Regions from separate parts of the Homo sapiens genome. Here region 1 is linked to region 2. The links come from fine-mapping of genetic effects on gene expression. A gene starts in region 2. The other region holds a variant in brackets. All regions are shown on one strand. Distances are from middle to middle.

Region 1 (4,404 bases), 20 kb after region 2:
AAGTGCTCATTGAAACAGTAAAGGAAACACAAGGAGTATATTCAGATTCCAGAGGGATCCTATAATAATAGCTAACAGGCACTTTGTGTTTTACAGTGTGTAAATAGTATTTGCATTTATTATTTGACCCTCCCACTAAACTGTGAAGAAAAGAGAACAAGGACGGGCGCCATGGCTCACGTCTGTAATCTCAGCACGTTGGGAGGTCGAGGCGGGTGAATCACTTGTGGTCAGGAGTTCGAGACCATCCTGGCCAACATGGCAAAACCCTGTCTCTACTAAAAATACTAAAATTAGCTGGGCGTGGTGGCACACACCTGTAGTCCCAGCTACTTGGGAGGCTGAGGTGGGGAGATCTCTTGAGCCTGGACAGTGGAGGTTGCAGTGAGCTGTGCACTCCAGCCTGGGAAAGAGGAGACCCCATCTCAAAAAAACAGAGAACAAGTTTTATTATCCTCACTCTACAAATGAGGAAATTGTGACTTGGGAAGGGCAAGTGGCAGAGCCAGGAAATGAACCCAAGTCTTTAGACTGTAAATCTTCATCACATCATTCTGTCTATGGTGTTCAGAGACCAGAACAAAAGAATAATAAGATCCTGGTTATTAAAAAACAAAAACATTCCAAGCTAACTTTTGGATTTATAATGGCATCAGATATAATAGTACTTCTTCAAAATTATGGTATAATAGTACTTCTTCAAAATTAGAGATAAAAATGTATTACCATAGATATTCACAAAATGTGGAACAGCAATTCAGAAAGAGTTGATTGGACCTAATTAACCCACTTCCAATAAGTCTGATGTCAGAAATATATGCTTATAGGAGTGGAACATTTTAGTAAATTGATGTTGAGTTTAAGATACATGCACCTTTTATGATACAATTAGTAAATATAATTGAACTGGTCTACATTCATGAGGCTTAAGCACAGAAGTACGCCCTGTGAGTTGAAGGTTTCTCTGACATATATCACCTTAAAGAGAAATCCACTCTCCATTAGGGTCATGGTTGTCTCTAGCATTTCTGTGAAGTGCAGGGCAGAGTCCAAGGCCCATCTCTTTGCCAGGAGTTTTCCATGAAAGGTTATTATTATCAATGGAAAGAAGACTTTTTTGCTTTCCTTGTCTCACAATTGTGTTTGCTCAAAGGACTTCATGTATGGATAACTATTGGGAGCATTTTGAGTGATGCTTTGCAGCCCAGTGTAACAATACAAGTGGAATAGAAGACATTTTGCAGGAAGCTTATAAGAATACACACGCACATTATAGTGTGGTTTTACTGGCAAAATCATATCTGATTTACCACTATCCTTGGATTGAATTTGCAGTCTTTTACCAAATTCAGGCAGTGTTGCTTTTCAGCATTAAGAAAGCAGATTGCAAAATTGTTAGTGGAGCTAAATTCTCGTTAATCATACTCCAAAGTGAGACACAACTCAGCCTAGATTGCATTCATTCATTGATTTGCCCAATGGTTATATCAGTTTATAAATTGGTTGGTGACATTCAGACTTGCTTAATTTCAATTTTAGATTTCAGCCCCCTATTACACCTGACGTGGAGACTTTCCAAAACACCGTAGGAGATTGCTTCGGCATCGCAATGGTTGCATTTGCAGTGGCCTTTTCAGTTGCCAGCGTCTATTCCCTCAAATACGATTATCCACTTGATGGCAATCAGGTAAGTAAACAAACTACACTGGGTCTCACTGGGCAACTTTAAATAATATTTTGCACACATAATATCAATGGTGCCACTTCTGAAAAAGGTTCATTCTTGTCTTCCTGTCAGGAGTTAATAGCCTTGGGACTGGGTAACATAGTCTGTGGAGTATTCAGAGGATTTGCTGGGAGTACTGCCCTCTCCAGATCAGCAGTTCAGGAGAGCACAGGAGGCAAAACACAGGTATGTCAAGATCTTTGCTGCAAGCACTGTCCTAGCGTTAGTAACTAGGAAATTCAAGCCAGGGGAAAAGTTGAGTTGGTGATGATAATTTTTTTATCCTCACAGATTGCTGGGCTTATTGGTGCCATCATCGTGCTGATTGTCGTTCTAGCCATTGGATTTCTCCTGGCGCCTCTACAAAAGGTAACACTGTCTTTGGATAGCATCTCTACTTTTAGTGGTAAATCAAGGACCCCGGTTCTTAAATTCTGAAAGCACAAACTAAACTAGGGGAAATGAGGTAATGACAAACTCTCAAGTACTCTTCTTAGCCAATACTCTGTATGAGCCAAAAATATTTCTTTTTCCCTGGCAACATGTTCTGAATGTTAGGAACACAGGTGCCCAACCTGCCTTATCTCCTCTACACTTTGCATGTGCATAGCCCCAAATAGAATTAATGTTGAAATAGGAGGGCACCCTGGCACCACACTTTCAACACGCATGGACTGAGTAGAGGTTTTCTTAAAGGTTAAGGTAATCAGGCCCTCTATCTAATTCAGAGAATGGCCCTACCAGCCACACAACTCGTTCTTAGGAACACACCCTGAAGCTTCTAGAACTTTGGTTTAACTCCAAGACCAACACTGTTGGATTGTGGGATGGGAGTGAACAGCCAGCACAGACCTCCCAGCCCTACTCTCATGCTCCTCTGCCTATAAGCTTGAGGGTTTAGTTTAATACTTTGTAAACTGCTGCAGCACTCAGATATAAAACATACCATCAGACCCTGGAAAGCAAAGGCTCTCTAGGAAACAAGATGAC[A/G]GTAAATACATTGTTCCTTGTGGTTTTAATATAATTTTGAGGTGGTACATGGAGCCCTGTTGACCTCCTTCTAATCCTGGCTCTGCTACTTATTATCTGTGTGATTTTGGGCAAATTACTTAACCTTGCTGAACCTCAAGCGCCACATTTGTAAAATAGAAAGGGAAATAATACCCACTACACAGAGTGACTATAAAAATAAATAAGATCATGTATGTGAACTACTTAGCTGAGGGTTTGGCATATGATAAATACTTGATAAATGATAGTCATTATTGTTAATAATATTATTATTCTACATTGTATTACACTCCTGGCTATAAAAGACATAGAGATATGATACAGCCCACAAATGTCTATTGGCTGTTACCTAGGCCTTTTTTCCTTGTTGGTTGGTAGCCGAACGGTGACTGTGGTCCCAGGTTGCTGGACTCCCAGTGTGGTCATCTCAAAAAGCTCAATGGCCAAATCCATCTTCAAGCAGGGCAGAGAACAATTTGCCAAAAATATGCATTCTCCATAGGCTATACTTCTGATTTCAAAATAAGTGGCATAAAAGGAATGAAAAAGTCACCACTAAAGAAATAGAAGAATGTTATCTCAATAAAAATAAACGCACACACACTCACCCCTACAGAGAGAACTCCACCCTCTCATGCTTCTCCCCGGGTGTAAACTTGAGTTCTACCTAGCCCACATCAATTTGGAGACACTAAAGAAATAATTACCAAATCTTGTCCAAGATTTAATCAAAGCCCCTTTTATAAAGGGTCCTGTGATATGTTCTTTTTAGGCCATTGTGGTCAGGAATGTCTTTGTTTCAAACACCCAAATAACTATTTGCTTCTTTTTATCATATGAAGGCAAAATAACCCATAATAAAAGCTCATAATAGGTATTTATTGAGTGCTCACTGCATGTCAGCAGAGCTCTAAGCGTTTTCTCTTCATTTAATCCTTTATATCAAATGCAGTATGGATACCAGATTACTGCGGAAATTATCCCCCTTTCCTTTCTATGATTTCTTAATGCTCTGTAATCTTTACTTTAAAAGTAATCTGTTGTATATGTATGTCATCGTAAATTACTTCAAATTGTTTTTCCGTAGAATACTGACTAGGTGGGAAATAATGCCCAATGGAAAAAAAAAGTCTCTTCGCACAGGTGTCTCTTGACATATTTTATACTTAGAGAATTAAAAGTCCTGCAAAATGGAGAGGCCCGTTGTACAGTCCTCTGACTTCTTTGCCTAGCTACCACAATGGTGACATCTTACACAGCTGTAGTACAATATCAGTACTATACATTAGTATAGTATGTTAAGTAGATTACAGACTTTATTCAATTTTCACCATTTTTTAACTGGCATTCACTTGTGTGCCAAATTTTTTAAAAGTCACTTAAGACCATATTTCTTCTAAACTGTGACCTCTATTCTCACAGTTAGTAAAATTAATTGCTTAGATATTATATTATAAGGATTACCTGTGAAAATTAGAAATAGGCAGATCAGTTCAACTGTCCTCAAGATATAAAAATAAAAACTGTATTTGGCTTTTCTTTGTACACTGTGTTTTCATGGTATAGCAGTATACAAATTCCATACTCCATTCAGAATAAAATAAATTGGCAGGGGGAACAGGACGGTGAGGGGCATGTTCCTACAATTACGATAAAATCCAAAGAAT
Region 2 (4,404 bases):
AAAGTCCCTGCCTGTGTGGGGCTTTCATTCTAATGAGAAAGCCAAACATTAGCCAAGTAAATAATTGTGTATTTTTAAATTATGATGCTATGTTTTAAAAAGTACATGCAAATTAACCAAGGGACTTAAAAAAATACTCTGAGAGAATGCCACAAGAGGGGCTAATTGAGATTAGGAAGTCAAAGTGGTTCTCCTTGAGAAAGTGATGTTGAAGCTAAGTAACAGCCAAACCGAGAGAGAGAGAGAAGTGCATTTAAGCAGAGAAAATGATGTCTGCAAAGAGTGGGCAAATTTGGGACTACAGGAGGCCACCATGGTGGGAGTGGAGAAAACAAAAGTAAGAGCAGAGTCAGATGAGGTTGGAGAGTTGTGCAGGGGGAGATCATGCAAAGACTTTGGAGGCCTGTTTTCCCTCTGTGTAATCATCAGCCCCACAAAGAGGACTAGTGTGAAAAGATCATTCTGATTAATGAGTGGTAAAGAGATGGGGAGGGCTGCGAGAGGAAGCAAGAAGTGCAGCAAAGGTAAGAGTGAAGATGAAGAAAAGTGATGGCTTTGGGATGTATTTTGGAGGCATGCTCAATAGGGTTTAAGGATGGATTGGCTGCGGGTGGGGAGAAGGTCTGCAAGAAGAAGTGTCAGAGATGGTTCCCAGGTCTCTGACATGAGTAAAGGGGAATATTCTTTACTGAAATGGGGAAGACTAGAGATGGAGCAGATTTGGGAGGAAAGATCAAGAGGTCTTAATCTCGATATGTGTCGTGTTTGAGATGCCTATGAGGCATCCAAGCAAAGATGTGGAATAGGCAGTTAAATATGTGGACCTAGAGAGCTGGGGTTAGAAATCTGAATGTTGCTGGGAGCCATAGGACTCTTATTTAGGGTAAGAGGGTAGCAAGAGAGGAGAAGGAAATTCAGAACAGAATCTTAGGAAATGCCAAAGAAAGAGTTAGAGGAGAAATTGGCAAAAAGGATGAGGTGAAAAACAAGTGTGTTAAAAATTTTTTTTTAGCATTTCAAGAAGAGAAGATTTTAGCCCGGCATGATGGCTGAGGCCTCTAATCCCAGCTACTCAGGAGGTTAAAGCAGGAGGATCACTTCAGGCCAGGAGTTTGAGACCAGCCCGGGCAACACAGCAATACCCCATCTCTAAAATTAACTAATTAGTTAAATAATTTTTAAAATAAAAAGAGGAGTTCATGAAAGTGTAGTCAGCAATGCCAAATGCTTTTAAGTAAGATGAGAGTTGAAAGTATTCATTGTGTTTAGCAACATAGGGTTTATTGCTCTTAGGAAGAGCTGTGGTGGGGGCAGAAATTGGAATGCAGATATGGCCTGTGGCTGGGAGTTGGGTGAGTGTTCCTAATGAGGGCCTTTATCATACCAGGAGTTAACCTATACACCACACTTCTGCAGCCCATGACAGATTCCATGGAGTCATCCAGCCAAAAAACACCACCACTAAACTCTCATCTAAACAGGTTGGTGAAATGTCAAGGAGATAACCCTTGAGAAGATTCTTTTTTTTTTTAAGTACACGTGAGCATCTGCTGTGCAATCTCTGCAAACCAATGAAATTACGTACACACAAGTGCATTAAACCACCCACTGGTGGTTTAATCTCACAAGGAACTTGAGGAAGCAATCTTCATCATCACTTCTGCTGATCAAAGTCTCAAAGGTCAAGACCACATTGCAGTCTTTTCATTGTTGTAAAAGTTAATGAGAGTTAATTATTAAAGCTGACAGAAAGGTAATTTGTCCACTGTCTTACATAGCCTATATATAGACATCCCTATGCATATGGATGCACACAGAGCCTGTAGACCTGAGTGGATGGACACTGCCTCTTAGAACTAGAACTTAGAACTTTATCTTGAAAATGTACCACTGTTGCAGAAGCTCCTCACAGAGTATGTGTCAGGTAGGAACCAAATTTATGATTGTTATATTCAAACTGGTTTTCTGTTCCTTGAAAATGGTATTTTTTCTGATCAAAGCCTATTTAGGAGTTATTATGTTCTTGAGTTTATTCCATGTGTGTGAATATTTTGAATGAATCCACTAATAAGATATGCATGTATGTCTGGAGCGCTAGCAATGTAGAATAAATATTTAAGTAGACTTTAACAAGTAAATGGTTGTAGGCATCATTAAGTCTTAAATAGCCTTTTCAAAGATATTAGTGTTCTTGTTTTAATTATTCAGATAATTCCTTTAATTCTCCACTCAAATCTGACTTTATAGATAGATTGTCTGCTCTGAGGGTTGGCAAAAAAAAAAAAAAAAAAAGCAAGCTTTAAGGAAAGAGTTTCTCCAGGAGAGAGAATCACCTACTAGAAAGGATTCAGAAAGGCCATCTGGTCCCAGCCAGGCATAGGGATATGTATCTATAGTCCTAGCTACTCAAGAGGCTAAAGCAGGAGGATAGCTTAGCCCAAGAGTTTGAGGTCAGCCTAGGCAACATGGCAAGACCTTGTCTCTTAAAAAAAAAGGGAGGGGGTAGGGGACATATGGTCTAGAAGTGAGAGATTTATCTGCTAGACATCCTAGAAAGTCCAAGACTAAGGGAAACACGGAGAGAAGAAAAGGCAATGAGAGTAAGAAGGATAGAGACTGGAAAGAGAAGAGAGATGGGGAGAAAATGGTCACTGGAAAGTAGCAGAATGCCCTATGCCACAAGTAGTATAATATAATATAATACATTAGTAATGTATGGGTACTTATCCCATACATTACTAACTCTATCAAGATAAAATCTATTTTATTCTTTAAAATGTCAGGAAAAGATTATACAACTTTCTTTATATATGCAAGTGAGGAACAATTTATCAAATTATTGGACTAAATAATTCTCTTTTCTGAAGTAAGTTAGTCATTTGGAAAAACTGTGTCATGAAATTTGACTGCATAAAGATCATTCCTTTTTTTTTTTTTTTTTCTGAGACGGATTCTCACTCTGTCGCCCAGGCTGGAGTGCAGTGGCACAATCTCTGCTCACTGCAACCTCTGCCTCCCAGGTTCAAGTGATTATCCTGCCTCAGCCCCCCAAGTAGCTGATACTACAGGCACGCTCCACTGTGCCTGGCATTTTTTTTTTTTTTTTTTTGTATTTTCAGTAGAGACGGGGTTTCGCCATGTTGGCCAGGCTGGTCTCGAACTCCTGACCTCAGGTGATCCTCCCACCTCAGTCTCCCAAAGTGCTAGGATTACAGGCATGTGCCACCCCATCCGGCCAAGGATTATTCCTAATGAAAATTTAGGAAGCAACTAATTTGATTTCAGAAACAAGAAAAATGGGGTAACACAATACATACTTTGCCTTCTCCCTCTGGATAAGGGAATAAGTAAGTATATAAAGAAATGAACAAATGTTTAATACCTCCTAAACAGCTCATATTCGACTAAGAAACAAAATCGTTCAGAAAATGAGAATGAATATTTTTCAATTACAAGAATAAATATGTAATAACACAGTCTGGTGCTTCTCTACAATAAAGGTCTTTGATTCTCCAAAGAGAAGAGAAGAGGCTCCTCTAGCCTCTGTGTCACTTTGTTGAGAAGCAAGGGGAAGAATAAAGCAAGTCACCTCAAGGAGATTTGTCCCCAGGCCACCAGGCTCATGTTTTGTGTTGTGGATATTGAGTGTAGGAGTGTGAGGCTTTCATGCTCAAAAGCAAGGACCCTGATGGTGCCTCACCTTGTTCTTTTACCTTGTCTCTCTTGGGGGTAGGGGCTGAGACCCCTGACATTGAATATGTAGCAGAGAAGAAGACGTAGTGGAGAGAGTCAGTTATTCACTAGATGTGGCTTCTCATCCTGGCTCTGGGAAGTTGAGAAAGTCATTTATCTTCTCTCATCTCCATTTCTTCATCTGTAAATTAGCGACAATACAGCCTATCTTGTCTGCCTCCATCCACAGTAATACTCAAGGAAGAAAAGTGAAAGTGCTCAGAAAATCTCAAAGCCTTACAGAAATGGCCAGGGATTCTCTTTTGCCTGCTGTGAGCCTACTGGGTGTGAAATCCCTTGCTATGGTGCATCCCAACATTTCTCTAATGGTTTAGCCTATGGGCCAACAAAGCCTTCTGTTTCAGTGTTTGGAACTCTCAATAACCTTTCACATGATTTGCTTATTGCCCACTGCTTTGTCATCACCCCTGCCAAACCTATCTGTTCTTTAAAGTCTAACACAAGACTCACAGTTCCTTCACAAAACCTTCCTAACTCCAACCCACATTTACATCCCTTCTTCCAATTTATTATCTGCACCAATTATTTTGGGCACTTCTCCTGTGTATGTAAACTTTGGAGTTTAGGTCTACGTCATTTATATATCTTTTGCTCATAGTTCAGTTTATTTCAACAAACTTTCTTGTATACTTACTATGTCATAGGACCTAA

Which allele goes with the higher level. Alleles are on the strand shown, and positions count from the first base shown. SD is a standard deviation of normalised expression in the study named.
For the expression in testis of the gene that starts at base 1,812 in region 2, A is the low allele of the variant in region 1 and G is the other (large effect, 1.6 SD a copy in GTEx).

What was found.
Region 1: its variant is fine-mapped to the expression of SLC26A3 in testis (GTEx, PIP above 0.99).

What each region holds. Positions count from the first base shown.
Region 1 is chr7:107,780,488-107,784,891 of GRCh38, reverse strand. It overlaps SLC26A3 (solute carrier family 26 member 3), which reads left to right. Exons shown (of 21, transcript NM_000111.3): 9 at 1,540-1,687; 10 at 1,799-1,912; 11 at 2,018-2,095. Among named protein-coding and RNA genes, the nearest start is that of SLC26A3, 21 kb to the left of the region's middle. The variant A/G (reference allele first, on the strand shown) is at 2,717.
Region 2 is chr7:107,800,631-107,805,034 of GRCh38, reverse strand. It overlaps SLC26A3 (solute carrier family 26 member 3), which reads left to right and starts at 1,812. Exons shown (of 21, transcript NM_000111.3): 1 at 1,812-1,924.